Homo sapiens: one gene and its partners. The protein of the gene in region 1 purifies or fractionates together with the protein of each later gene. This does not show direct contact. Each region holds a gene or a part of one and is shown in the gene's direction. Other genes may lie near its edges.

What was found.
Region 2: the proteins of GSTT2B (region 1) and NMD3 purify together in Homo sapiens (affinity purification with mass spectrometry; 2 studies listed by BioGRID and IntAct, with this or other methods). This does not show direct contact.
Region 3: the proteins of GSTT2B (region 1) and SPDL1 purify together in Homo sapiens (affinity purification with mass spectrometry; 2 studies listed by BioGRID and IntAct, with this or other methods). This does not show direct contact.

What each region holds. Positions count from the first base shown.
Region 1 is NC_000022.11:23,956,115-23,966,761, reverse strand, and holds GSTT2B (glutathione S-transferase theta-2B), read left to right. Parts: upstream 1-5,566; 5' UTR 5,567-5,630; coding exon 5,631-5,742; intron 5,743-6,380; coding exon 6,381-6,468; intron 6,469-8,060; coding exon 8,061-8,211; intron 8,212-8,303; coding exon 8,304-8,477; intron 8,478-8,829; coding exon 8,830-9,039; 3' UTR 9,040-9,348; downstream 9,349-10,647. UniProt on the Homo sapiens protein: Conjugation of reduced glutathione to a wide number of exogenous and endogenous hydrophobic electrophiles. Has a sulfatase activity.
Region 2 is NC_000003.12:161,216,358-161,224,310, forward strand, and holds the start of NMD3 (60S ribosomal export protein NMD3), read left to right. Parts: upstream 1-4,953; 5' UTR 4,954-5,052; exon of another isoform or gene 5,053-5,367; intron 5,368-5,636; 5' UTR 5,637-5,656; coding exon 5,657-5,700; intron 5,701-7,953. UniProt on the Homo sapiens protein: Acts as an adapter for the XPO1/CRM1-mediated export of the 60S ribosomal subunit.
Region 3 is NC_000005.10:169,584,472-169,593,951, forward strand, and holds part of SPDL1 (protein Spindly), read left to right. Parts: intron 1-2,727; exon of another isoform or gene 2,728-2,901; intron 2,902-3,901; exon of another isoform or gene 3,902-3,922; 5' UTR 3,923-3,945; coding exon 3,946-4,104; intron 4,105-4,127; exon of another isoform or gene 4,128-6,358; intron 6,359-6,576; coding exon 6,577-6,753; intron 6,754-8,882; coding exon 8,883-9,077; intron 9,078-9,480. UniProt on the Homo sapiens protein: Required for the localization of dynein and dynactin to the mitotic kintochore.

The sequences.
Region 1 (10,647 bases):
CTCCCGCTTCTGCAAACAAAAGTCACGTGTGCCGGCTGATTTCCGGAAGTCCCATCGTCTCCGCCCTACGTGTAGCCCCACCCACTACAGGTCTTTAACCCGGTAGTGGACCCACCCTGTCTCCCCCGACCCTCCTGCCTGGCGCCAGGTGGGTTTCCCTCTCAAGCTTCCGCGCTGTGGTCGCCCGGTTCCTAGCCCTATTAGAGGTCTGAACACCACACCCCCGACACACAAGGACACACACACACCTATAGGGGTCTTCCCCAGGCTCGACCCTAATAACCAATACAACGGGAGCTTAAAGTTTTTTTGAATGATTTGCCACCATTTCGAAGTCAGGCAATTTCATGTTCAGTATGGAAATCTGCGCTTGGGCAGTCAGGAGATGTGGTTACTCGCGGGGGCGCGGGTAGGGCTAGGCTCACGACAATACCTGTCCCTGCCTGGTCCCCATTGACATCTGCCTGTGTAGCCTCTTGTGCCGGTGGTGAGCCACTGTCCACCAGGGGGTGGCAAAATATGTTCTTTAAAACATGGAAAGGCCGGGCACGGTAGCTCACGCCTGTAATCCCAGCACTTTGCGAGGTCCAGACGGGCGGATCACCTGAGGTCAGGAGTTTGAGACCAGCCTGGCCAACATGACGAAACCCCGTCTCTACTAAAGATACAAAAATTAGCCGGGCGTGGTGGCAGACGTTGTAATCCCAGCTGCTCGGGAGGCTGAGGCAGGAGAATCGCTTGAACCGGGGAGGTGGAGGTTGCAGTGAGCCGAGATCGCGCCATTGCACTCCAGCCTGGGTGACAGAGCGAGACTCCATCTCGAAAAAACATCAGAAAACATGGAACTCTGTTGGCGTGGCTTAAACATGAGTGTGGTCAGTGTGGCAAAATCACTTGAATTGTACATTACAAATATGATTGAAGTTGTGGTCGAGCAATGTGGCTCACACCTGTAATCTCAGCACTTTGGGAGGCTAAGAAGGGAGGATTGCTTGAGCCCAGGAGTTAAAGATCAGGCTAGGCAACATAGCAAGATTCTCTTCTTTATTTTCTACAAAAAAAAAAAAAAAAGAAAGAAATCTGGGTGCTGTGGTGTGTGCCTGTAGTCCTAGCTACCTGGGCGGCTGAGGCAGGAGGATTGCTTGAGCGCAGGAGATCTAGGCTGCAGGGAGCTATGACTGTGCCACTGCACTCCACCCTAGATGACAGAGTGAGACCCAGGCTCCCCCCTCCCCCACAAAAAAGAAAGAAAAAATTTGCAAGTTTATATGTACAATTTCAACTACGTGTATAAAATTCTCTATAAGTGTGCATACTTAAAGGAGCCTCCACTGAAAGGCCGACAGAGTCTCTGTCTGTCATGATCTTGTCCTATTAGCAGTTTGTTTATTAGATGACTCAGATATCAGAAGGTCTGAGACACACGACAGGTAAATATGACAGTCCTAAGGGGAGAGGGCAGGGACAGGTGGCAAGTCTGGGACCAGGTGTGGGGCATGGACAAGCCAGTGGTCCGGGAGTGGGGTGTAGAGAAGACTGTGGTCAAGGTTATGAGGAGGCATGGGAGAGGGCCAGGAAATAACCAGGGACTTCCCTTCCTGCAAGGAGGTTCATGAACCAGCCCTGCACCCCACTTGTGGAACACAACATCGCCCCACAGTGAGGAGAGAGACCGAGGAGACCAAGGCTGATCCTGATTCAGACATCTTTCCACCAGGTCACCCCTCATCGATGATACATGCTCAGTCCGGGGGTATCCCCCGCAAGGAAACACTGGGGCTGAGGAGCCCAGAGAGGTCGCCTGACCTGGACTGGGGCTGGGGAGGTCAGGGAAGTCTCCCTGGAGAAGAGACAGGGTGCCAAATGCCAAAAGACCAGGAAGGGCACCAGGCGAAGATGAGGAGGGAACAGCATGAGCGGAGGCCAAGAGGCCAAGGTGGGAGCCCAGAGAGGGGTTAGGAGTGTGCAGGCAGAAGGGGCCACCTGGAGGAGTGGGAGCAAGGCCTTGAATGCAAAGTTCAATGACTTGTACTTTAGCTTCTGGGCAGTGAGGAACCATACAAAGTTCCACACAGAAGGTCAGGGTCAAGTAAGCGTTTGCCCAAGCTCTTTTCAGAGGTCACATGGAAGCTAGAATGGAATGGGGTAGGAGACAAAAGGAATGCAGGCATGATATCTGGAGGAACTGTGGACCAGAGCCTTTGCAGATATGTCTTCTCTTCAACCAAGGAGACGGACAGCTCCATGTCTTTATTCTACCAACACAGCATCCCCTCAGTGGCTCAGCAAGTGTGGGACACGCACTCACAGCAAGAAAAGCTGCATTAAGGTCTTCAGATTCTCTTTAACAGCAGGTTCTACTGGAGGCAGGTCCTTGGCCTTCAGGACAGCTGGGAGGGCCTCCTGGAAGAAGTCCTCCCGCACTGCAGCCTCCACGTGTTGGGCACCATGCTGCCACCGTGGGTCCGCTTTCAAAGACTCAGCAGCCAGCACTGATGGGCTAGGGGAAGACAGAGTCAGCGGAGGGGCTGGGCATAGCCAAGTGTAAGGCAGCATGACCTGCTTTAGGGGTTCTCTGATTGGATTTTCCCTCCTCCACCATGTGTGTGATGGGCTAGGATGTCCCCCTCCCTGGGGACACTTGGAAGCCTCTTAATATAGCTGCGGTGAGGGGTTTGTAAAGCCCCATTTTATAGATGAGGACACTGAGGCTCAGAAGGAGAAGTGACTCACACAGGGTCCCACAGCCAGAAAAGACAACATGAGCTGGGATGTCAGCTCCCTTCCCGGATACACCACTGCCCAGCGGGCCACCGCACCCCATGGCACTCTCATGCCTCAGCTCCGTGATTGCCACCAAGCCAGCCACAGAGATACGGGGCCCAGTAAGGAAGGCCTGGTCCCGCAGGAACTTGTCCTCGAGCAGCTGCAAGCATCCGTCCAGCTCAGCCAAAGTGGCCGCCAACATCTCGGGTGGCACTGACTCGCCCAGGAACACAGGGATTATTATCTGGTGGGCCGACAGGCAGAGAGAGGGGTCAGGGTCTGCCCAAAGCCCATCCTGGTTCCCACCATCATCCTATCATCACCAGTCCTTGGGATTTCTGCTCACCTCTGCTCACTTCTTTCCACTCATAGCCACCAGTAGCTCTCATCTCCTACTCAAACAGGGACAGCCTCCCCCTTCTCCCTGGGTCCTCACACAAGGCAACCAGTGGGATCCTTCTGTAATCTCAATCTGCCCGTACCCTCTCTTGCATAAAGCCTTCCATGGCTCCCCACTGCCCTCATGAGAAAGGCCTCAACACAAAGCCAGCCTTCTCCAGTGCGGTAGCCATCCCCTCCCCACTTTTCACCTCACCTCCTACTACCCCCCACTTATCAAACGGGAATGTGTGTATGAATCCTCCCTGGAATCTGGTTACAGTTTATGCTCCCAATCAGTAAGGTCAGAGTGGGGCCTGAGCCTCTGCATTTCCAACAAGCTCCCTGGTGATGCTGATACTCCCAGTCCATTGACCACACTTTGGATAGGAAGAGTCTACACTTGCTCTACTCAACTTCTCTCCATTCTGTCCTCAAACACACCACGCTTCCTTCCCCACCAGCTGGAGGGGGCTCTGCTCCCAGGCCCCAGAGGTCAAGGCAGACACAGTTAAGGTGTGGAAACCTCCTTATTGCCCGATGGATCCTCCAGAGAGGCGGTCCCTTACTTTCAGCAGGGCGCGTGTCTACCTGTTTCATGCTGTCTCACACACAGGGTGCCACCCCTGTGCTGGGCACTGGGTAAGTGCTCTGTACATATTAATTAGGAGTACTCATTTCAAAAATATGTGTGCCTTTGATAAATAAAAACAGTATGTGCATGTTGTGTTGGTGTGTGCTTCCTTGATTATTACTGAAGTTAAACATGTTTTCATCCATGTATTGACCATTTCTCTTTGTCCTTCAATGAAACCTCTGCTGATTTCCTTCGCTCATTTTTTTCCTGTGTCTTCGTCTGATGAGTTTCTCTTCTTTTTGTTTGTTCGTTTGTTTGTTTTGAGACAGTCTCGCTCAGTGGCCCGGCTGGAGTGCAGTGGTATGATCTCAGCTCACTGAAACCTCTGCCTCCAAGGTTCAAGTGATTCTCCTGTCTCAGCCTCCCGAGTGTGCCACCGCACCCAGCTAATTTTTGTATTTTTAGTAGAGACGGGGCTTCACCGTGTTGCCCAGGCTGGTCTCAAACTCCTGACCTCAACTGATCCGCCCATCTCTGCCTCCCAAAGTACAGGGATTACAGGCGTGAACCACCACACCCTACCTGTCTGATGGGTTTCTAAGAACATCTTAAAGGACATTACTTCCTTCTGACGTATCTTTTACCGAGATCCTTCCCAGTTTTTTGCTTAAGGTTAATCCATTTTTTCCTCCACAAAGTAACCTTGTATATGTATTGGTTTTTTCTTTGTTGAGTTCTCCCACTGTTCTGAGGCTTAGAAAGTCCTTTCATACCCAGACATCAGAGAAACAGATCCCGTGAGAGTAACTGGGATTGCAGGTGTGGGCCAGCATGCCCTGTTATCACTCCCTTTCTCTGAGTCAGCTTTTCTCTCTCAGTCTCGTCTACTCCTCGAACTCAGGAAATGTCACTACAGGTGGCCCCAGCTCCCGTTTACCTCCCCATAGGGAGCTCCTCTCTCCAGTTCCAGTTTCAAAACTCCCAAGGAAGCATTCTGGTTCACTCGCTTGGGCCACTGGCCAGAGGGATGGGATACTCTGAAAGATTCAGCTAGAGTCCCGGGCCCAGCCCTGGACCATCACTGTGCCCCCTGGTGAGATGCCAGGGCTGGGATTCAGGGAGAAGAAAGGAGGTTCCCGGACAGTCATTCCTGCCTCCCGCGGCTGCGGGCTCCCTGCCCCCATCCTGTGCACGAAGTGGGAGCTCCCGCTGTCTGGCAGCTCCCGCTGTCTGGCAGCAGCTGCTCTGCAGGGGACAGTCTGGACGGCAGAAAGTTCATCCTTAACCCCAGCCTTCCAGTCAAGGTTCCCACCAGTTTGGGACACCTGCAAGTGTCACATCCCACTGGGTGAAACTCTAAGATCCCTTTTAGGGGATCCCATTCGCTCCCTCCCTTCCGCCACCATGCAGCGCCGAGAAACAGAGCTCTGAACGAACCCTCAGATGTCCGTGCGCTGGGGCCTTTCCAGGACGGCGGCGCCCAGTCGTTTCTGGGTCAGGGCGACGCCTGGAACTGGGCAGGGTCCCTGGCACCGGGATCCCGAAAAGCAGACCTGCTTCTCCCTGTCCAGCCGGTTCCCCTTCCCCTTGCAGTCGGCCCCCTGCATCCGCGTCCTCCCTGCCAGTCGAGGGTCCCCAGCTCCAACTCCACCCTCCCAGCTGTGCGTTCATAGCGACCGCCCTCCCTGTAGGGACGCACGGATCTGGTGGTGGAGTCTTGGCCGGCAGGACTGGACAGGAACCGAAGGGGCGAGGCGGGTCCGGGGGTGGTGCGCTCCAATTGGGTGCTGTCCCCAGGGGGTGGGGCCTGATCCCCTATTTCCCGGCGCGCCGGGATCCTGCCACAGCTGCTGCCCACACCGCGCTCAGCGCCTTCACTGCCATCCCCGCTGTCCTTGCCGCCCCCGCCATGGGCCTAGAGCTGTTTCTTGACCTGGTGTCCCAGCCCAGCCGCGCCGTCTACATCTTCGCCAAGAAGAATGGCATCCCCTTAGAGCTGCGCACCGTGGATTTGGTCAAAGGTGGGCCCAGCCCGTTTCCCCGCGTGTCCACAAACCCAGTGCACCCCCAGGCCCCCGCCCTGCTCTGCCCTGAGCGTCTCGCCGCCCGCACAGCCCCCTCACCTCCTCCTGCAGCGTCTGCCACCAGAGAATGCTGTGGACTGAGTGGCCTTGGAGGGATCACAGCCTCTCTGAACCTTAGCTTGCCTTCTGAAAAGGAGGATAATGTTACCTTCTGCTCTGTAGGGATGGAAAGAAAATACTGAATGGAGTTGACAGAGTTCTTGCGTGGAATGCACGCATATAAATTCACAAAGCCCAGAAGACCTTGGGAAGAAGGACATGCTGTTGTGAGAATTAAGAGATGGGAAGAGATGAGCCACCCCAGTTTGCCTCCCCTCCCCTGGCCCACCAGAGTCCGGCTAGAAAACTTCTCTTTATCCACCTGCTGCACCTGGCCCCACCCACCAAAGCCCCCCAGCTGCCCCGGAATGTGGCAGGGCAGGGAGGCCCAGCCAGGGAGTGAGGCTGATCCAGGCCTCTAGTCCCAGACCTTGCTGTTTCTCAGGGCTGTGGGGCTCCGCTTGGGGAGGAGGAGGGAGGGTGTAGAGGTGCAGCGTTTTTATTCTGAAGACCTTTTCTGACTTCTTCCTCTTCAGGGCAGCACAAGAGCAAGGAGTTCTTGCAGATCAACAGCCTGGGGAAACTGCCGACGCTCAAGGATGGTGATTTCATCTTGACCGAAAGGTGCCCTCCTTCCCTCACCCCTCACCGCATCCGGAGCCCATGTGACCTTGGCTCTCCCCACTGGCCCCGGGCCCCAGTGGCCCTCCCATACCCCATGGGGCAGCGAGGGAGGGGAAAGGCGAGGGATCTGGCCGGGCGCGGTGGCTCACGCCTGTCATCCCGGCACTTCGGGAGGCCAAGGCGGGCGGATCACGAGGTCAGGAGACCGAGACCATCCTGGCTAACACCGTGAAACACCGTCTCTACTAAAAATGGAAAAAAAATTAACCGGGCGTGGTGGCGGGCGTCTGTAGTCCCAGCTACTCTGGAGGCTGAGGCAGGAGAATGGTGTGAACCCAGGAAGCGGAGCTTGCAGTGTGCTGAGATCGCGCCACTGCACTCCAGCCTGGGCGACAGAGCTAGACTCCGTCTCAAAAAGGCCGGGCGCGGTGGTTTACGCCTGTAATCCCAGCACTTTGGGAGGCCGAGGTGGGCGGATCACGAGGTCAGGAGATCGAGACCATCCTGGGTAACACGGTGAAACCCTGTCTCTACTAAAAATACAAAACATTAGCAGGGCGTGGTGGCGGCCGCCTGTAGTCCCAGCTACTGGGGAGGCTGAGGCAGGAGAATGGCGTGAACCCAGGAGGCGGAGCTTGCAATGAGCAGAGATAGCACCACTGCACTCCAGCCTGGGTGACAGAGGGAGCCCACTCCAGCCTGGGCGACAGAGGGAGACTCCGTCTCAAAAAAAAAGGAAAGAAAGAAAGGAGAGGTATCTGGGGAGAAGGTACAGCTTGGGGTGTGACCGGGATGAGCAGGGGCTGACAGAACATGTCCCCCCACCTCTCATCTTCCAGCCTTTTCTGAGCCGCAGGGCCTCTCCACTCCCAGACTGAAGGGTATTAGAAGAGAAGACAAGGGAACATTTTTCCACTGTTGCGCATTTGTTCAACAAATGCTAGCTGAAAAGAGCCTCTAGTGACTTGTTGCAGACTACCCAATCTACCCAGGCCGGGCCTAGAGGCCAATGCCATGGCCCAAGGGCACAGCTCATGGTGAGGTCCAGCTGCTGGGCAGGAAAAGGACAAGAGGTCAGGTGGCTGCAGAAGTGATGGCTGGGGGCCTGTCAGACGGGGGCCAAAGACATTCCTCCCCTCGTGATCCCTGACCCAAGCGCGTGGACATGCAAGGGACTCCACGGAGCATCCACTGTGTGCCAGCCCCATGCAGGGTTCCAGGGGTCCAGGGAGCCTATTCTGAGCTGCACCGCCTCGGACAAGTCACTTGACCATTCTGACCTTGAGTTTTCTCTTGTGCTAAAAGGCTAACAGGAGTGTCTACCTCACAGGGCGGCTGCTGGCATATCACAGAGATGAGGTTCTCAAAATGCAAAGCAGAAGGTCCAGCCAAGAGTCGGTGCCCAAGGCAACAAAGACAGGAGGAGACTCGTAGGAGGAGGGGGTGGTGTTGGGGAGCTGGAGATGGAGGGCGAGGCTGGAGGGCAGTCCTTCAAATGCAGAGAAGCCCCCGGGCCCCACTGGCAGATGGGAGCAGTTAGGGGTAAATGCCTGGTGCCAGTGTCCTTATAGCCACTGCCCATTTGTTCCCAGCTCGGCCATCCTGATTTACCTGAGCTGTAAGTACCAGACGCCGGACCACTGGTATCCATCTGACCTGCAGGCTCGTGCCCGTGTTCATGAGTACCTGGGCTGGCATGCCGACTGCATCCGTGGCACCTTTGGTATACCCCTGTGGGTCCAGGTGAGGAGAGCCATCTGGAGAGTGATTGGCCATCAGGGAGTAGTTGGCAGTAGGCCGGGGCCATAGACTGACCCACTCTCTGCCCCCATCAGGTGTTGGGGCCACTCATTGGGGTCCAGGTGCCCGAGGAGAAGGTGGAACGCAACAGGACTGCCATGGACCAGGCCCTGCAATGGCTGGAGGACAAGTTCCTGGGGGACAGGCCCTTCCTCGCTGGCCAGCAGGTGACACTGGCTGATCTCATGGCCCTGGAGGAGCTGATGCAGGTGTGAGCTCAGCCTGTGGGCAGTGTCCCTCTTCGTGTCACACCCATGAGGCAGACAGAAACACTGAGGCCTGGAGAAAGCCAGAACTTTGCCCAGAATCATAGAGCAAGTCTCTGGATGATCTGGGGCCAGAACCCTGAACTTCTGCCTCCTGCCTGGGTGTGGGGTCTCACCCTGGCTGCTCTTGGGCTCTAAGGCTGAACATACTGCCTGGGCCCCTGTGGTCCATTCACTTAGGGGCTGGGGAATGGACCATGTCTCTGATACTTCTGCCCATGGTTCCAGCATTCGGGTCGGCAGTGACAACTGGGAAAGTTGTATGCCCACAACTTTTTCATCCTTGTCCCTACAGCCGGTGGCTCTCGGCTATGAACTGTTTGAGGGACGGCCACGACTGGCAGCATGGCGTGGACGAGTGGAGGCTTTCCTGGGTGCTGAGCTATGCCAGGAGGCCCACAGCATCATCTTGAGCATCCTGGAACAGGCGGCCAAGAAAACCCTCCCAACACCCTCACCAGAGGCCTATCAGGCTATGCTGCTTCGAATCGCCAGGATCCCCTGAAGGGTCTGGGATGGGGGCCAGGAGATTAGCAACAAGGATTCATTCTGTTACTTACTTGCCCCTTTTTATCTTTCCCTCTTGCCCCAGTCCCTTCTCTCCAGCTTCATGTGAAGCTCTGCACAGACAAGACACTCAGTGTCCTTGGCAGTGCTGCTACTCCTCAGGTGCAGCATACATAACCAGTAAGAGACTAAATCTGCAATATATAAAGAGCTCCTACAAATCAGTAACATGAAGAACACTCAAAAATTGGCAAATGTCATCAGTGTTTTAAACAGAATAAAGATTCCAAACACTTTGAATAGAGAACCAAGAGTTATTGGTTTTACTACATTGTTGTGTTATACATATGGAGTAAAAGTATGTGCTAGTAATCCTCATCATGGTTAATAACAAAGTAACCTCACAATAACGAGTCAACATAATTGTATCACCAGGGCAACAAAATGTTAAGTAAGTAACCAATTCGAATTGCAAACTGTTAAAGGATATAGGCGATGTTTCACAGGGCATAGCAACGGTCTTTGAAGTCTAGGAAACTTAAAAGATTTCTTTTAACAAGCATTCATGTCTTCTAGGACAGTTTTGTAATAACTGCAAATAGTAAGATTATACATTGTCACACAGACCTCCATGTATATCCATGGGATGGACCCCACCACAATGATTTTAACGGAGAGAACTTGATATAAAGAATTGGTAACCAGGCATTAGAGAACTCCGAAGACAGAGAGAATCCAGATTAACACGGAGGTAAACACTGCAAGAAGCTACCACCCCTAGGGCTGGGGGATCAAGGGAGGAATTAGGAAGACCAAGATGCTGGAGGGGCCCTGAAGAATTCAAACCTCCAAGAAAGGTGTTGCTCATCCCCCCTAGTATCACCTTCCAAGAAGGGCAGGTTTCCCCAGTTTGCCCTGAGGTCTTCACAGGAGGTCATGTGGCTGTGGATGCAGTTCTCAAATGTGACAGTAGATGTCACTGCCGACCAATAAACAGGATGTTCCAGACACACTCTGGGCTACCTGCCCACATGTCTTGTGGCCTTACGGCCCCCCATTTCCCAAGCCTGCCCTGTGCCCATCATGTGCCACTCTATCGGGGGACCTGCCCCAATAATCACGTAGGTTCTTTCCTATTTTTCCTAACCGTCAGCCGGCTTGAGAAATAAAGGGAGAGAGTACAAAAGAGAGAAATTGTAAAGCTGGGCATCCGGGGGAGACGTCACACGTTGGTAGGATCCGTGATGCCCCACAAGCCACAAAAACCAGCAAGTTTTTATTAGGGATTTTCAAAAGGGGAGGGAGTGTGCGAACAGGTGTGAGTGACAGACATCAAGTACTTAAGAGGGTAATAGAATATCACAAGGCAAGTGGAGGCAGGGCAAGATCACAGGACCACAGGACCGAGGCAAAATTAAAATTGCTAATGAAGTTTCGGGCACCATTGTCATTGATAACATCTTATCAGGAGACAGGGTTTTGAGACCAACCGGTCTCACCAAAATTTATTAGGTGGGAATTTCCTCTTCCTAATAAGCCTGGGAGTGCTATGGGAGACTGGAGTATATTTCATCTCTGCAGTCTCGACCATAAGAGACAGGCCACG
Region 2 (7,953 bases), on another chromosome or scaffold:
TGAATCTGTTACAGTGGTAATTAGGCAAGAGCTGGACAGGAGAGGGCTTCCCCTACCCACCAGGAATGTCAGGCAACCATCAGGTGATGGTCTGGCAGTTGTCACATCACCTTTCTAAAAATAATAATTGGTTGCAGGCACCAGGGAGAGGCAATTTCCCAATGGATAAAAACACTTGAAATTGGTAATCAACAACTTCCAATAAAATCTCAGGAATTGGGCGAGTGGGCTTGAGTATGTACATTGAAAGGTAAAATGGCAGACTTTAACTGGTTATATGACCTTCCGGGAGCATTCCACCGGAAAAGGGAAAAAAGCCTCAGGTGGCCATGCATACAACTTCTTAAACACACTGCACCTGCTCATCTCTCAAGCGCAAGGACAGCATCATGCATGTGGGCTGCCCACTCTAAGGGAAGAATCATGAAAAAAGGAATGCGGAGACACCCGAAATATGCCAACATATAAAACCCCAAGTCAAAAGGTCAAACACCACATTTGACCTCCACAGTTCTTGCCTGGGTCTCTTCCAAGTGTACTTTCCTTTCTTTCCTGCTCTAAAGCTTTAAAATAAACTTCTACTCCTGCTCTGAAACTTGCTTCAGTCTCTTTTTCTGCCTTATGCCCCTCAGTCAAATTCTTTCTGCCGAGAAGGCAAGAATTGAGGTTGCTGCAGACCTGTATCTATTTGCCACCAGTAACTCAGATATTCACTACCCCTAACAAATTTTACAAAGTGAACACTAAATTTTTATTTCATTTACTAAATGATGTCTTTATATTGTAAATTAAGGGTGAAGCAGAATCGCAGGTGTAATGTTTCAAATTTGATACATTGGCTGTTTCAGATACAAACCATTTCTTATTGCTTCACTCAATTCCTATTAAGGATCTTCACCAGAGAATAACAGGGCCTACAATCATTATAGTATTTTGCAGTTTACTAAACACTTCTATGTACCTTATCTCAGTCAATTCTCATAACAATTTTCTGAGGTAGGGATTATTACATAGTTTTAGAAAGGAGGAAAGGAGCTTTTAGAAAGGCTCAGAGTGGTAAAGCAAATCCTTAGGGTCACAGAATCTATCAGTCACAAATCTCAGACTTGAAACAAGGACTTTAGAGTCCATGTCTTCCACCGACTCTCCTAGGCATACTGCTTTCTACATGGCGCATGCTGTGGCTGTGAGGTACTGCCCAGATCCCCCTCAAGGAATGAAGTACTTATCCCACAACAGCAGGGAGTGCTGCTGGCAGAAAGCCCTCAGTTTCATCTACTTCTGGGACTGCCTTGGCTGAAGAGAGAAATATCACCCAATGCTATGTCCTTTTCCTGGGACAGTCACATCCAATGACTCATCGATGAGCAAAGTCCCCCTCGGGAAAACTCAGAATGGTCATTTCAGCTTCAGAGCTTCCCACAGGGTTAGCTGAGGCTTCCACTAGACTGCACGGCAGCACAGCTCCCTTCTGCCCAATGGTGCTTCTGCCCTTCTATTCCACAGGTGTTGATTCTAAGAGGATACCCTAATACACCTCCCCTGCACTAATCTCCAATATTATCTTGATATCCCCAAATGTGCTATCACATTTGATAGTGTGAAAAATATCACAGTATGCATTTGAAAGTTCTGTGTAGAATTTCATTATTTCATTGATTAGCAGATTTTTTTTTTTTTTTTTGAGACAGGGTCTCCCTTTTTCACCCAGGCTGGAGTGCAGTAGTGCAATCTTGGCTCACTGTAGCCTTGACCTCCTAAGCTCAAGTGATCCTTCTGCCTCAGTGTCCTGAGTAGCTACGACTACAGGTGCATACCACCATGCCTGGCTAATTTGATTGTTTTATATTTATTTTTTATTTTTTAGAGGTGGGGGTCTCAACATGTTGTCCAGGATAACCTGGCCTCAGTCGATCCTCCCACCTTGGCCATCCAAAGTGTTGGGATTACAGGCATGAGCCATTATGTTCGGCCAGGAATTCCATTTTAATACCATGGTTAAACACATAGAAATGAAGTTTGTAAACATATACTAAGGCTTAGATTTGAATACAGATAGATATCCTCAGTGCAAGGACTATGGGAGCTGAAAATAATCTCACCTATTATTTTCAGGTGAGATTTGAGGTTAAATAAAAAGTGCAAAGTGAGTTTCCCTCTGGTATTGTTTGCCAATATTATCCCACTCAGTCCAATCCTAGCAAGCTCATTCAGGCTCATGAGAGAGGTAGTTGAAATCAAGAACTTACTTTTGACATCTGGAAATCTTAGTGGTGGGGGCTGGCAGATGAAGAGAGAAATATAGGTGCCTTCTACTACAGAAGTATTTCATTTATCAAAAGGTTGTGGATAGGAATAGACGGCCTCAGCCTCAGAAGGGGAGGTAGGCTGCTATGGTGAGGGTCTGGGTTCAGAAACAAACTGTATTTCACGTCCCAGTTCTATCAATTATTTGCTATAGGACTTTCAACAAATTGCCTAATCTAATCCAGCCTCATCTGTAATATGTAAGGTCCATGAGGGCAGGGACCATATCTGTGCTGTTATTATCATACATCAAGTGCTTAAGAAGCCTGGTATTCAGAGCCAAATCAAATAATTGTAGAAGGAATGTGTTAAAAAATGAGCAGCCTTTGACATTTAGAAGCTGGTCTGGTACTTGCAGCTATGCCATAATATTTTCCTATTAGACAGAAATAATTTCACAGAATACTAAACTCAGACAAGATTACTCTGAAACCATGATAAAATGAGGCAAAGAAGGTCACTTCATAATTTTGTCTAAGCACAGACCAAAATAAGTTCACTATGCCACCCACAAAATACCAAACATTCCCTTTCTTCACCAAAATGAGTGACTGCTACTTCTTTGCTAATTGCAGCTTTATCCTCCTGCTTCCCTTTGTGTAAATAAGATTTACTGAGACATCCAATCACAGAATTGCCCCTGCTTTCTGACAGCATCCAATCTATAGAAAAACCTCTATTTTCTTAGGGCCTCCCCGAAAACACCCGCCCAAAGCCCCAATCCTATGATAGGTTTGTTCTAAACACCCTCTTACTGAGATACCCAAAGGGTATCCATGGTGAGTGTCTGGGCTCACTTCGAAGAGTAATAAATAGACAGAAGCTGCTTAACTACAGCTGTGTTCCTAGTGGTGTTTGGTTGAGGGCATAGGCAGTGTGAATAGAAAAAACGGGGAGAAAAACACTGTCTCTTCAGAGTTGTGGTGGGTATTAAATGGATAATTAATTTACCAATATATATTGAGGGTCTGTTTTGTGTCAGCTGCTGTGCTAGGTGCACCAAGAAGAACAAGACCCGAATTGCTCTCCAGGGTTTTGAAACTGCTGGGCATGCAGAGTAGAAAATTTATGATCCAATTCAAAGCACTATTATAGAGGCATATACCTCGTATAAAGGTGTTATCATAGAACCATATATACAGAAGGAGCATGTAACTCCTCTGGCCCTTAGGGACCGAAGGAGTCAGAAAAGAGAGGATGTATGGTGGACAGGATAATGGCTCTGCAAAGATGTCCTATTCCCTGAAATCTGTGAATATATTACCTAACATGGCAAACGAACTTTACAGATGTGATTAAATTTCTTGAGATGGAGAGATTATTCTGGATTATTTGGTTGGGCCCAGTGAAATCACAAGTGTCCTTGTAAGAGGGGTGCGGGGGGGTGGGGGTGAGAAAAGGAGACTCTGACTGCAAAATGATGTGGGACCACAAGCCAAGGAATGTGGGCAGCGTGTAGAAGTTGGAAAGGGCCAGGGAATGGATTTTCTCCTGGAGCCTCCAGAGTCAGCCCTCACCATCTATTTAGACCTGTAGCTTCCAGAACTGGAAGAGAACAAATTTGTGTTTTCTAAGCCAACTAAATCAGTGATAATTTGTTAGAGCAGCACTAGGAAACTAATTCAGGCTTAATCTTTAGTGCCGAGTCCCGGGTAGAAGCAAAGGAAGACTATTTTCTGTGAGGACCTGCCAGTTGGTCTTCATGGCTTGCGAGTACGTGTGCTTGGGAGTAGGACAGGATATGTGGAGATCAGATCCTGAAAGGTCTTCTTTCCACACAAAGAAACTGGAAATAATGCTGAAGGTAATCAGAGGCCACTGAAGGATTAAAAGCAGGGGAGTGTGACAAAATCAGAACTGCATTTCAGAAGGATGAATTGAAGTCTACAAGTAGAGACAACAGACGAGAGGCTACTTAAGTATTCTGGGCAAGAAATGATGAGAGGCTGTCTCTGATCACCCTCTACAAAACGCCTTTGCTTATTCCTTGAAATTTGGGATGAGAGGATTTAGAAAAAAAAATGGTTGTACTCTTCAAATATTTGAAAGGCTGTCATGAGACAGATTAGACACGGTCTGTGCTGCTCCAAGTTTGAGGGATAAATCAGTCATAAGAAGATATTAAATGCACTATCCGGAAGCACATAATTAATAATTTGTCTAAAAATCGCATAGACTTCTTCACAGATAATTATGCTTTACATTTCATTCTTTCAACAAATAATCATTTGAGCAGTTAGCATGTGGCAGGCATCAGGCCTGTATATGACGGTGAACCAAACAGACAAAAGGCACTGCCCTGGATGGAGTTTCTTTGCATAAGGTACCGTTTACAGATAACTTTTATATAAAATAATCATTTAATCAAGAAGCAAGCTCACAGTCGGGATAGCTGAAAAGAGACTAATATACGGGCGAGGTTGGTTTGGAGTAAACCCTGGCCTGGGAAAATCGAGACGATAACTGAAAAGCAGTCACTGACGGCAAATGAGCCCCTGGGACTTCTCTCCGCGAGCTTTCCCAGCCACCAGGCCGCTCCCATCACCCTTCCGCCCGTCGGTGCCGCCCCTTTCCTCGTCCCCACCCCGTCCCTTTTAATACGTCACTCGGGCCGCGGGATTTCGAGCATTTCGCTCGCGAGATCTTCTCTGTGGCGGAGACAGCCAGGTTGGCAGCTGACGGGACAGCCGGGGTCTATTTTGTTGCGGGTTTTCAGCAAATCCAGGGCTGGTCTGGAGGCGCGAAGTAGGTTCCGGAGTCCGAGACCTGGGCTGTCGGCCGCGGGCCCCTGAGTAGCGGATGGGGCGGGCTCCCCGGCCTCGGGGCCGTGCTCAGTCTGCGTGAGCGCCGCGTGCCCGGAACCCGTGTGCGGTCGCGCCCCGGGGTTGGGGGTCGGCGTGGGTGGCCCTCGGGCGCCGGGACGCCGTCCGGAGACTCCTGTGGCGTGGGTCTGAGGCGCGGTGGTCCGGTGCGGTCCCTGGGCTGGTGGAGAGCGGGAGGGCCCGGGCGTCCACAATCCCGAGCTGACCTCGCCCTTGGTCGTCCAGGGTTGGAGCCCAGGTGAGATGGAGGTCAGCGGCAGAGCTGGGTGGCCCGAGGGTCTTGCAGCTGGGAAGCTCAGGAAATCCCATGGTCCTCATCTTAAAGTTCTTTTTAACGAACTTACCCAGTGGAGTTGGGTTTCCTTCTTTCCTGCTTTTTCGAAGTTCTGTGAATATATTAATTATTCAGAGAGACTGGAGGAAGACGTAAAAAGAGGAGACTAGGTAAAGTGATTTAAATCCCAACATTCTCTTTTTTTTTTTTTTTTTTTTTTTTTTTTTTAAAAGAACTTAAGGCATACAGAACGATGGAGTATATGGCAGAATCCACCGACCGCAGCCCTGGACACATGTGAGTGCGACACTTCTTCCTTCCCCCTTAAATGTGAAAATCTTCAGTGAGCCCGGGAAACTCACTATGGAGAACGCTTGAGGGTGGGTGGGAAAGAGCGTATATTGTCATAAATGGGAAAAAATAGAAGTCTTATTTCTGTAGAAAATCGAATTAGTTTCTGGTTATAAAGCTTGTTCTAGTAAATATAAGCTCTAAGAGGGTTAAAATATTTACCATACATCCTTTTAGATCGGCACTGTCCAATATGTAGCCATTAGCTACGTGTGGCTATTTAAATTTACTTTTTACTTACTTTTTTTTTTTGAGACGGAATCTCGCTCTGTTGCCCAGGCTGGAGTGCAGTAGTGTGATCTCGGCTCACTGCAACCTCCACCTCCCGGGTTCAAGCAATTCCCTGCCTCAGCCTCCCGAGTAGCTCGGATGACTTCCTGATTTTTATTGGAGATTATAATGTAGTAATTTTTAAATTTTGAACATCTTAAATCTTAGTTATCAATTTTTAATTTCTTGCATTTAAGTTCAAATTAACTTTTTTTTTTTTGCTGTTAAATAGGTTTAATGATACAGTGCTCTTCAAAGAGATTACTACAGAGACTTTTAAACGATAATCCTGGAATCGTTCAGCACAGACCAATTAGCTAAATCTAAAATAAATTGGCTTCTTACCACAACTACCCTGTAAACATTGTAGTCCTTCTGTCTAGAATGACCCTAATCTCACAGGAAAACAGTAACTATGGAGAAACTAGCTTTGTGGCCAAAAGTAAAAACCAAAGGAAAAATAGGAATTCAGTGGTTAGTGAAAGCAGGAAATTTGGCCCCCTTCCCTGTGATGCTTTACTCTTCCCTTGTCCATCAGTTAGCTCAGTGGGTTTGAATAAGCCATCTGAAAATGTCTTTGGAGCTCAGCATAGTGCTGATCTTCCTTGTTCTATCAGTAGCTTTTAACAGACACTTGTCTAAGGGCTCAAAGCCCTTCACAGAACCCTTTCTTGGAATGGGTTGTTTGACCATTATACTTCCCTCCGGACAACCAGCACTTCTGGAAGAGCCTGGTTAGCTCTGTCAGGAACTGCTTTCTTTCCAGGTGGTACCGCTGGCTCCACTCTGTCAACATAAACCCCAAGCAGTTTAAGTTGGAAGTTTCCTAAATTAATTTAAATGGAATAAAATTAAATACTTGGTTGCTCGTTTGTACTAGCCATGTTGCCACATGTGGCTAGTGGCTACCATTGGACATGGAAGATTATTGAACTTTTATTTTGGACAATGTTGTTCTACATTAGGGGTTCTCAGACTTTTTCTGCCCCCAGTACATCTCGAATTATGATAGTTCCGTCATTTATACTGAGTCTCTAGATGTTGATAGACTTCCTATACTGTTAAAAAAAAAATTCTGCTATGGGTAAATGTTTATATTTCAGCAGTCCTTATGCTTTTTTTTTTTAATTGCCTTTGGAGTATATTGGCGTCTGATTCTGTTAGAAATGATTTAGATATTAGTTTCTATTGGTGTAGTCCAGAGATATACTTGAAGAAATGTTCATTAGAGATAAGTAGACAGCTGTAGTCTTTTAATGTAGTGACACCATACTGTTCACCTAAGCTATGGTCCTCTGTATGCCCTGAATAAATAGATTTTTGAAGACTTAGTATTTAGAGATGAGGTGGTTGAATTAAAAAGAGACAAACTGATCTTACATATTCTTGATACAGGATTTTCTTTTTGGTTTTTGCCATTGACACACTATTGCCTTGTTAATTGATTCTTTCTTGGTTTTCCAATTTTCAACAAGGGATAATGAATAACAGTGCTTCTCAAATTTTTCCCAAGTTTGCTATTACACTTGTGGTTGGGAAGTTTATCTGTTTATTTGTAAAAGTTAATGTGAATGTTTGTGTCTGCATAGAAAATGTTTGGAAGGATATATACAAATTATTAATAAATGTTATCTTTATGGATAGTGTTGGTTGGGTGTGGTAAAGAGCACGTTAACATTTTTAATTATATTTCAGTATCTAAAATTAAAATTAGTGCAAGATTTGTATTCTTCATCAATATACCTCCATTTGTTTTAATGTGACAATATAGTTTCATTTGCTTTTAATAAAAAAGACTTGTTTAGACCCATACTGGCTATTTAAATGTAAATTTGAATTAAAAAAATAAATTGAGTTTCTCAGTTGTACTAGTCACTTTTCATGTCCCAGTTGCCACATGTGGCTAGTGGCTACCTTGTTGTACAGACC
Region 3 (9,480 bases), on another chromosome or scaffold:
ATTTAATCCTTTCAGTAACCGATTAGGTGGGTGTTATTGTGCTTGTTTTTATAGATGATTAAACCAGAAATTAAATAACTTGTCCAAGTTCATGCAGCCAGTGAGTAGTGGAGGCGGGGTAAGAACTCAGGCAGTTTGATTCCCAGAGTTTCCTGTGTCCCAAATGCTTTGTGTGTGCTATATTTTTGAGAAGCAGGACAGGAAAAATGGTTGCAGCACCATGGTTTCTAGGTAGATTCTAGTTCCCATCACACTTCGCGTCTTAACTTGCGGGTAACCCTAAGCAAGTTACTTAAAACTTTCTATGCCTCAGCTTGCATGTGTAAAATGAGGGAAATACCTTCAACCTCTTGAAGTTGTTGAGAAGATTGAATAAGAATGTGTATAAAGCGGCCGGGTGCGGTGGCTCACGCCTGTAATCCCAGCTACTCGGGAGGCTGAGGCAGGAGAATGGCGTGAACCCGGGAAGCGGAGCTTGCAGTGAGCCGAGATTGCGCCACTGCAGTCCGCAGTCTGGCCTGGGCGACAGAGCGAGACTCCGTCTCAAAAAAAAAAAAAAGAATGTGTATAAAGCACCAAGCACAATGTCTGTCACACATTAGTAGTTTTTAATCAACCACGGCTATCTCTCTTTGTAGATTGATAGGTTAACTCTTTCTCATCCATTAGACCTCTGCTGAAAAGTTACTTCCTCAGGAAAATTTTTTTGTCCATGTTCCCTTCTACGCGCTGCCCCCCAGATTAGGACAGCTCCCCCTTGTTACAGGCTCAGGTAGCATACATCTGTCTCTCTTGCACTTATCATACTTGTAACTTGATAGTTCAATTACTTGATTTAATGTCTTTTACTAATAGACTAGGATTCAAGAAGACAGGAATATTGTTTTAGGTTGCCATTGTGTTGTCAACACTAGCACAATGTCTCACACAATAAGAATTCCAGCAAATTTTTTGAATAAACTAAAGCAAATTTTTTTTGGCTTCTCTGGATATGCCTGGCTGGAATGTCTTGAGGTTAACCCTATTTTTATTTTGGTAGTTGAGATGACAGTATTTACTTAACTCAAGCTCATCAAGATAATTAGATGAGATAATATATTTGAAGCAGTTAGCATGGCAAATGGTAAATCCTCAACGAATGTAAGTTATTGTGAACAGTACAACATTTAGTTGGCTGGCCGTATCATGTACAGGCTTTGAAAAGGTCTTGCATTTTAGAGCAGTGACTGCCAAGCTGGGATTACCTAGAACACCTTTTTTTCTCTCTTAAACCCTGTATCTCTTCCCTTGTCTTCATTCTCAGTTAAAGACCTTGCTTCCTAATTCATTGATAAATTGAAGCAGTTAAAAGGTTACTTACACAGACTTCCACCACTGTACCTGCTTATCAGCATCTAAACTCATATACTTTGCTTAAATGAAATATCCATGCTTCTATTAAAACCAGTCTCTACATTAAACTTCATCCTGTTTATTCAGGGACATCACTAGCAATTCTCCAGTGTCTTCTAGATCATCAGTTTTTCTTCTCTCCTGGATTTATCCCATGACCTACAAACACTGTTATTTTTTTCCATCTTAAAAATAAAAAAACTTGTCCCTACTTCCTCTCCAACTGCTGCTCCGTTTATCCGTTATCCTTTGCAGCAAACCTGTGCTTGCTATCTTTATCTCCTACCATTCTCTCTTGAAGGCATTCTAGTTAGGCTTTCACCCCCACCTGGATATCAAAACTGTTCTTGTCACCAGAGACCTCCAGGAATTCAAGTTCAATGGCCAGTTCTCTGCTCTCACCTTAATTGCCTTAGCAGCAGCATCTGGCATGATTGATTACTCCCACCTCCTTAATACACTGTTTATTGCCTTCCAGGACAACACATACTCCTGGTTTTCCTTCTACCTCACTGGTCACTCCTGATTCTCCGCTGTCTTCTTCCCTACCTCATAACAGGGTTCAGTCGTTGGTCCATTTCTCTTTAAATACTTTTATCCTCTATAGACTGATAATTCTCAAATTTGCATATCCAGCCAAGATTCCTCTTCTCATATATCCAATTGCCTACTTGACATAGTTCATGTTCAAAACTCAAATTCCTGATTTTATTTCCAAAACATTATTTACATCAGTGCTTCAGCTGATGGCAATTCCATTTTACTAGGTGCTCAGGCCAGAAGACTTGGAGGCATTTTTTACTTTTCCCTTTTTCACACATCCCAAATTATATCTTTCAGAAAATCATATTGACCTTACCTTCAAAACCTTCAAAATCTGGCCATTTCTCACAGCCTCCTATGCTGCCACCCTAGTCTGAGCCATTTCACATGGTCTCTGCTTCCAGCCTTGTTCCCCTTCTAAACTAGTCAACATAGCAGCCAAAATGATTCTTTTAAATTATATCAGATCCTCTACTCCAGACTTTGGAATGACTTCCCATGTCACCCAAAGTAGGAGCCAAAGTCCTTATAATGGCCTGATTTGCCCACTCTCTACTATCTCTTAGCCAAATTTCACTCCCTGGGCTTCTTCCTGCCTTAAGGATTCCCCTCTTGCTGGAACATTCTTCTTCTAAATAGCTGCCTGGCTGATTCTCTCATCTTCTGCCTCCTGGTTACATCACCTGTCCCTTCTTCCCAGATTCTTATTCTGTTCTATTTTTTCTCATCTCCCCTTTCTAATTTATTAATATTCTGTTACTTACTGTTTATCTTCCCCTCCTGGAATGTAAGTTTCATGAGGGAGGAGCTTTTTTTTCGTCCATTTTGTTCCCTAATGAATCTGAACTGCCCAGAATGGAACCTAGTATATAAGGCATTCAAGAAATACTCGTTCAGTGAATGACTACATTGACTTGAGACATGGGGGAACATCTTGCAATGACCTGGTGCCCTTTGAAGGCAAAGGTGAGTTTGAGTCTCGCTTAGGAGGCTGGGACCAAATAGTAAAGGATAATTAGTAAGGTTGATTAAAGTGGAATGTTTCTATATATAATGTTTAAGTCTTTGTTTATAAATCTAGAATGAAAGCAACATCCTTTAATTCTTATGGATATGGTTTCTATTTTTGCATACTTTTATGAATAACTAGAAAAATACTAGTGAATCTCTTTCCAGGAAAGCAGATTTAATATATTCAGGAAGTTAACACTGTTGTGAAAAATTACAGACATGATATTTCTTACTTTACCTTATGAGCCTTATTCACAGCTGCCTTTTTATATTTTATGTGTTTATAGTACCCAGACCTTCCTTTTCTGGTGGTATTATTGTTATTATCATTATTATTTCTCAAGACAGTGTCTTGCTCTGTCAGTGCCATGATCATAACTCACTGAAGCCTCTAACTCCATCAATTTTCCTTCCTTAGCCTCCCAAGTAGCTAGGACTACGGGGGCTTGCCACCATCCCCACCTTATTTCTATTGATTGATTGATTGAGATGGAGTCTTGCTATGTTGTTCAGGCTGGTCTCGAATTCCTGGCCTCAAGTAATCCTCCCCAGTTGCTGGGATTACAAGCATGAGCCACCATACCTGCTACTATGAGGTTTCTTGATTACTTTTTTGTTATTCCCTTAATTTTGATTATATGGATAGTGGTCCAATTATGAGACCAAACTTACCTTAACATATTGGAAGCTTAGCATACAACAACTGAACAGTTTTCTGATGGTGAACTGTTTAGAAGCAAAATTAAATGTATTCTATTCCACTCTTTAATTTTTGATCCCAAATCAGTAACAGAATTGTCAGAACAGTTCTTGCTCTTGGAACAAGAATGCAAATTTGACTACTTATTAGTCAGGAAGAAAATTTTAATGTTTTTATACGACAGTAGTATTGAGTAGATATGTTTCTTCTGTTATTGATATTATTGCATGGAGTTTTTTGTATAAGCTTAAGTAGTTTTATTTCCTCTATTTACAGTTGGCTAAAAAAAAGAAAAGAACATGGAGGCAGATATAATCACAAATCTTCGATGCAGGCTCAAAGAGGCTGAAGAAGAGCGACTAAAAGCTGCACAGTATGGTTTACAACTAGTAGAGAGTCAAAATGAATTACAGAATCAATTGGATAAATGTCGTAATGAAATGATGACCATGACTGAGGTAGGACTCTGGACTCCTCTGTCTGCAAGAGTGTGCTTAGCTATTGAAGATTTGTCCTGTTTAGCAATTAATAGTAGTAGTAGTTTATTCTTTTCTGAAGATTTTAGATCTAGTTCCCGCCCTGCCCCGTCCCTGTTAAAAAAGAATGAACTAAATGAATTCCTGTTATTCTTTCCACCCTAGTGTATTCAGAGTTTGAAAGATCAAGTTATCATTACTCTCTTTGCCACATTTACTACCAGATTTTGCTTTGTCTGCACACTTCCTAGAAGACCTCACTTGTTTTAGACCTCTAAACATCTAAGTGCCCCATGACACTACACCAAGCCCTTAGTTCCCCCATGAAATCTAGGTTTGTGTTCAACTGCCCACTAATAGACTTCTCAAACTTAACACAGACAGAAGAGTGGATTCCCTGTCCGTTAACCAAATATTCTTTTACGATTTTTTTTAGCTTATTTAGTAAATATAATAGCATTCAGTTTCTTGAACACCAAAAATCTTTATATACCAAAGATTTTTGGTATATTTTTGGTTTCTTTATATACCAAAAATCTAGAACTTTTAGTCAATATCTTCCCTTTATTTCTCACATTTCACTCATTAATAAGTTCTAAGAACTAGACTACAAAGCATGTATCTTTGCTACTGGCACTGTAGTCCAGATCACCATCATCACTCCTAGACAAGTATTGTAGCCTTCTGGCCGGGTTGCCTGCTTCCATTGTTGCCATTCATGCCATTCATTCTTCACTCAGCGTCTAAGTGGTCGTGGAATAACACACCAAAGGTCATGCCACAGCCCTGCTAAAAACCATACAACAGCTTCTGATTTTATTTACAACAAAATCTGAGCTCCATCCTTGGGTTTGTAGATCCCTATGTGACCTGACCCCTGCCAAGCTTCTGACCTCACCTCAAACTGCTTTGCCTTGTTCTTGACTATACTGGTCCTCCCTTATGGGCTTTACACCAGCTATTGCCTTTTTTTTTTTTTTGAGTTGTTTACCCCTCACTGCTCTTGGGTTGAGTCCTCAGATTTCAGCTTTCATTTAAATGTCACTTCAGCGGAGAGGTCAGCCCTTACTATGTAATGTAAAGTTGCCCTGATTCACTTTTTTTTTCTTTTTTCTTTTTTTTTTTTGAAACAGGGTCTCACTCTGTCGCCCAGGCTGGAGTGCAGTGGCGCAATCTTGGCTCACTGCATCCTCCACCTCCTGGGTTCAAGAGATTCTCCTACCTCAGCCTTCCGAGTAGCTCGGGGTTACAGATGTGTGCCACCACATCCGGCTAATTTTTGTGTTTTTAGTAGAGATGGGGTTTCACCATGTTGACCAGGCTGGTCTTGAACTCCTGGCTTCACGTAATCTGCCTGCCGAAGTGCTGGGATTACAGGCATGAGCCGTTGTGCCCGGCCCTGATTCCACTCTTAATTATCTGCATTGCTAATTATCTCTAGATTATAAACTCCATGAGAGAGGGAATTTTGTATGCCTTGTTCACTATCCTGAATGCCTGCCACACGATTATTTCTTAAAAGAATGAATGAATAAATCTGGGTAATTTAGCAAATGCTCAGTAACATATTTAAACTTGAATCTCAACATTGTAAATATGGCAGGTAAAAAATATCTGTAGCAGGTAAAAATAACTAGTGATGGCAACCTTTGTGTTTCTACATAGTACTGTTGTAAACCAAGAACTGAGTGCAAAGTCATAAAGGCAAAGTAAAGATTACAAATATCACTAATAGAAAATAAAACTGTTATACTTAATCATTTTGAGTCATAACTTGTCAAATTTCAGTGTTTAACAGTTAATACTCTTTGTCTTCCTTTAAAATAAAATGGTTTTTGAGGGGAATATTTTATCATTTTTTAAAGCCTCTTGAAGGAGTTCGTACTTGTAACATTTTTAATGTCTAAACTTCCCTGTGAGTAAGCAAAAGCCCTTTTAATTACTCCTTTTGTCTCAGCTCTGCATTCATTCTGATAGACCTTTTGTGACATTTCTCAGATGACTACATTCTGAAAGTAAAGGCTAATTCAGTATTTCTTTTTTTTCAACTATTATTACTACTACATTGTGTTCAGAGCTACAAGTAGAGCATCTCATTATCAAACTAATAATTCTCATGAGGAAAGCTTAAGTGCTGTTAAATCTTTTTTTGTTGTTAGCAGAGATTACTTGACTTGACGTGTTGACATACCATGGAGCACATTTTACTTCCTTGACAAGGCACAGAAGCAGTAAGGTATCCCTTGCATGGGTTTAACATAGTTTCGAAATACACCTCAGGGGTTTATTAAGACTGATTAACTACAAAGTTATTCCAGGTTTAACATGTCTTCGTTATTTGGAAAGCAGCAAATGCTTGAAATAAGAATGAAACAATTGAAGTTGAAAACTGATTGTATGTAATGGCTTTAGGCTATTTTTATGTAATTGAATTGTAATTGAATCTGTTTTCAGAGTTATGAACAAGAAAAATATACCCTTCAAAGAGAAGTTGAACTCAAGAGTCGAATGTTAGAAAGTTTGAGCTGCGAATGTGAAGCTATTAAACAACAACAAAAAATGCACCTGGAGAAATTGGAAGAACAACTAAGCAGAAGCCATGGACAGGAAGTGAATGAACTAAAAACTAAGGTTGGGATATCTGCGTATTTCAGCACAAAATATTCCATATTTATGCAGCCATCTGTAAACTTTAGATGATAAAGATTTTCTTAAGTGTCAGCTTTGCAAAATAGCCAAGATCTAAGTCTTCATTATCTTAATATTGGGGGTGGGAACACTGAGATACAAGAGTTTGTCTAAGGGACTTGTATAAATTATATCCTATTAATTAAATACAATTATTTAATTTTGGTTGCTGGATATTTGTGAAGGTTTAGTTTAGTGACTAGCATGGCCTCCTTGCTGATAGTGGGTACAGCAGCCCCTTGCAGAAAGCCTCGTCTCCTAGCCTTCCCTGCAGTCAGTGGTATGCTTTGTAATTCTGTAAAACAGACCAGTAGTTTCTTACTAGTTAATGTGCATTACAAATGACACTTTATAGTTTGTTTACTGAGGATAAACTAATACATGTGCTCCAGTTCTTACAATAATATTGTGGAAAGGTACCATTATCATTTCCATATACCAGATGAAAGAGCCAGTGTTTAGACAGACTGAGTAAATTGGACACAATTCAAGAACTAGAAATTCTCCATCTAGGTTTGAACTGAGGCTGTCTGACTCCAAAGGCTGTGTTACTGAATCACTACATAGTCTAACAGCATGTTACACTGGCTCCATTTCAAACATAAACGCAAGATAAATGATTGGTCAGTGGTTTTCCCTTTTCCCAGCTAGCCAGTGCTTTCAGGTTGCTTCTGAGGAATCCAGAACTTTTTATCATGGATCTGCTTTGTGTATAGTCTATACTCTGACTTTTCCAGACACTGTCTACCAAAACTTGCCTGACTTTTGTCCTCCTTTCTCAGAAGTCTGTTACCCAATTTTCAGCTTCTTGTATAGCAGCCTCTAAGATTTTTCTTTTTCTGTATACCACCTATACTATTACTTAATTTCTCATTGACTCTCTTTTAATGTTTACTGATTTTAAGAAACATCAATGAAAGTATTTTTTTTTCCTTTTTTTTTTTTTTTTTTTTGAGGCAGAGTCTCACACTGTCGCCCAGGCTGGAGTGCAGTGGCATGATCTCGGCTCACCTGCAACCTCTGCCTCCCGGGTTCAAACGATTCTCCTGCCTCAGGCTCCTAAGTGGCTGGGATTACAGGTGTGCGCCACCACGCCCAGCTAATTTTTGTATTTTAATAGAGACAGGGTTTCACCATGTTGGTCAGGCTGGTCTCTAACTCCTGACCTCGTGATCCGCCCACTTCAGCCTCGCAAAGTGCTGGGATTACAGGCCTGAGCCACTGCGCCTGGCCAAAATTACATATTTAAGCTTGCTTATTTTTTCCCAGTATACACTAAAACAAACATAGCTATCTAAATATACCTTCATGTAATATATAATCATCTTGCATACCACTCTGACAGATAATATCATCCAGCTTGTCTGAAACTAGTCGGATTTGAGGCCCTAATGACTGATAATGATGTGCTTTCTTCCCCCTCTGGTTGTTATTTTTATTTTTGCAATAGTTTTCATCACCTAAACAAAAAAGAGTAATAAAGGGAGTATTCAGGACTGAGGTAAGGCTAATTATAGAGATGGCTTTTTTTTTTTTTTTTTTTTTTGGTGGAGCAAAGAGTACATTAGTGAAATATTTTGTTTTACTGATTTTCTCAAATCACTTATGCCAAAATTTGGATTTTTTTAATACCTTTTCTTCTCTTATTTTTCACATTTAATTCATCAAGTTCTAAGAACTTGACCTACAAAACATCTATGACGCTACTGCCACTCCAATCCAGACCTTCATCATCTCTTTCCTGGACTACTGCTGTAGCCTTCTGACCAGGTTGCTTGCTTCCATTGTTTCTCTTCATGCCAGTCATTCTTCACACAGTAGCCAAGTGGTCCGCATCATAGTGCCTCCAGATTGCTTCTGAGGCATCCAGACCCACCCCGATTACTCATGGATTATTTCTATGTTTATTAAACAAGGTGTGTCACTAGCTGTTAAAAGATGCCTAACCTTGGGCAAATAGGAAACTCCAATAGTATCATCATTCAGTAAGTTTGGTTCAATCAGTTCAATCAGTGATTGTTTTTAGAAAGAAAATAACTTTCAATTTATGACTTTTTTTTTTTTGGCTTTAGATAGAAAAACTGAAAGTGGAATTAGATGAAGCCAGGCTTAGTGAAAAGCAGCTGAAGCACCAAGTAGATCATCAGAAGGAACTCCTCTCTTGTAAATCAGAGGAACTGCGCGTAATGTCTGAACGTGTGCAGGAAAGCATGTCTTCAGAGATGCTGGCTCTTCAAATTGAGCTGACAGAAATGGAGAGTATGAAGGTAATTTTTATGGCATGTGTTTCTCAGGGTTTTCTCTTTTTTTTTCTGGCATATTTTTACATGTTTTGGTAATAATTCTTAAGAGCTAGTTTGAAGGCTGAAACATTTTTTGACCTAACTTGCATCTAACTAATTAAAAAATGGGTTTTTTTTAGGTGGATGACTTCATTCATAATATAGCTTTAGACTATATGATTATGTAAGGCAGCCTTTCTCTTAGATTAATGAAACGTCTGGAAGAATTTAGAGGCATATACTCTGATCCCAGATTTTATCGTAAGAGCCCAGTGTAAAACGTTGGCTCAGTGGAAGTTGAAATGCATGTGAACTTGGTTTTTTCATTGAAAGCTAAGGTTAATTAAAAATTAAAGCCTGAAATTGATAGAGGAAAAAGGGCAGTCTC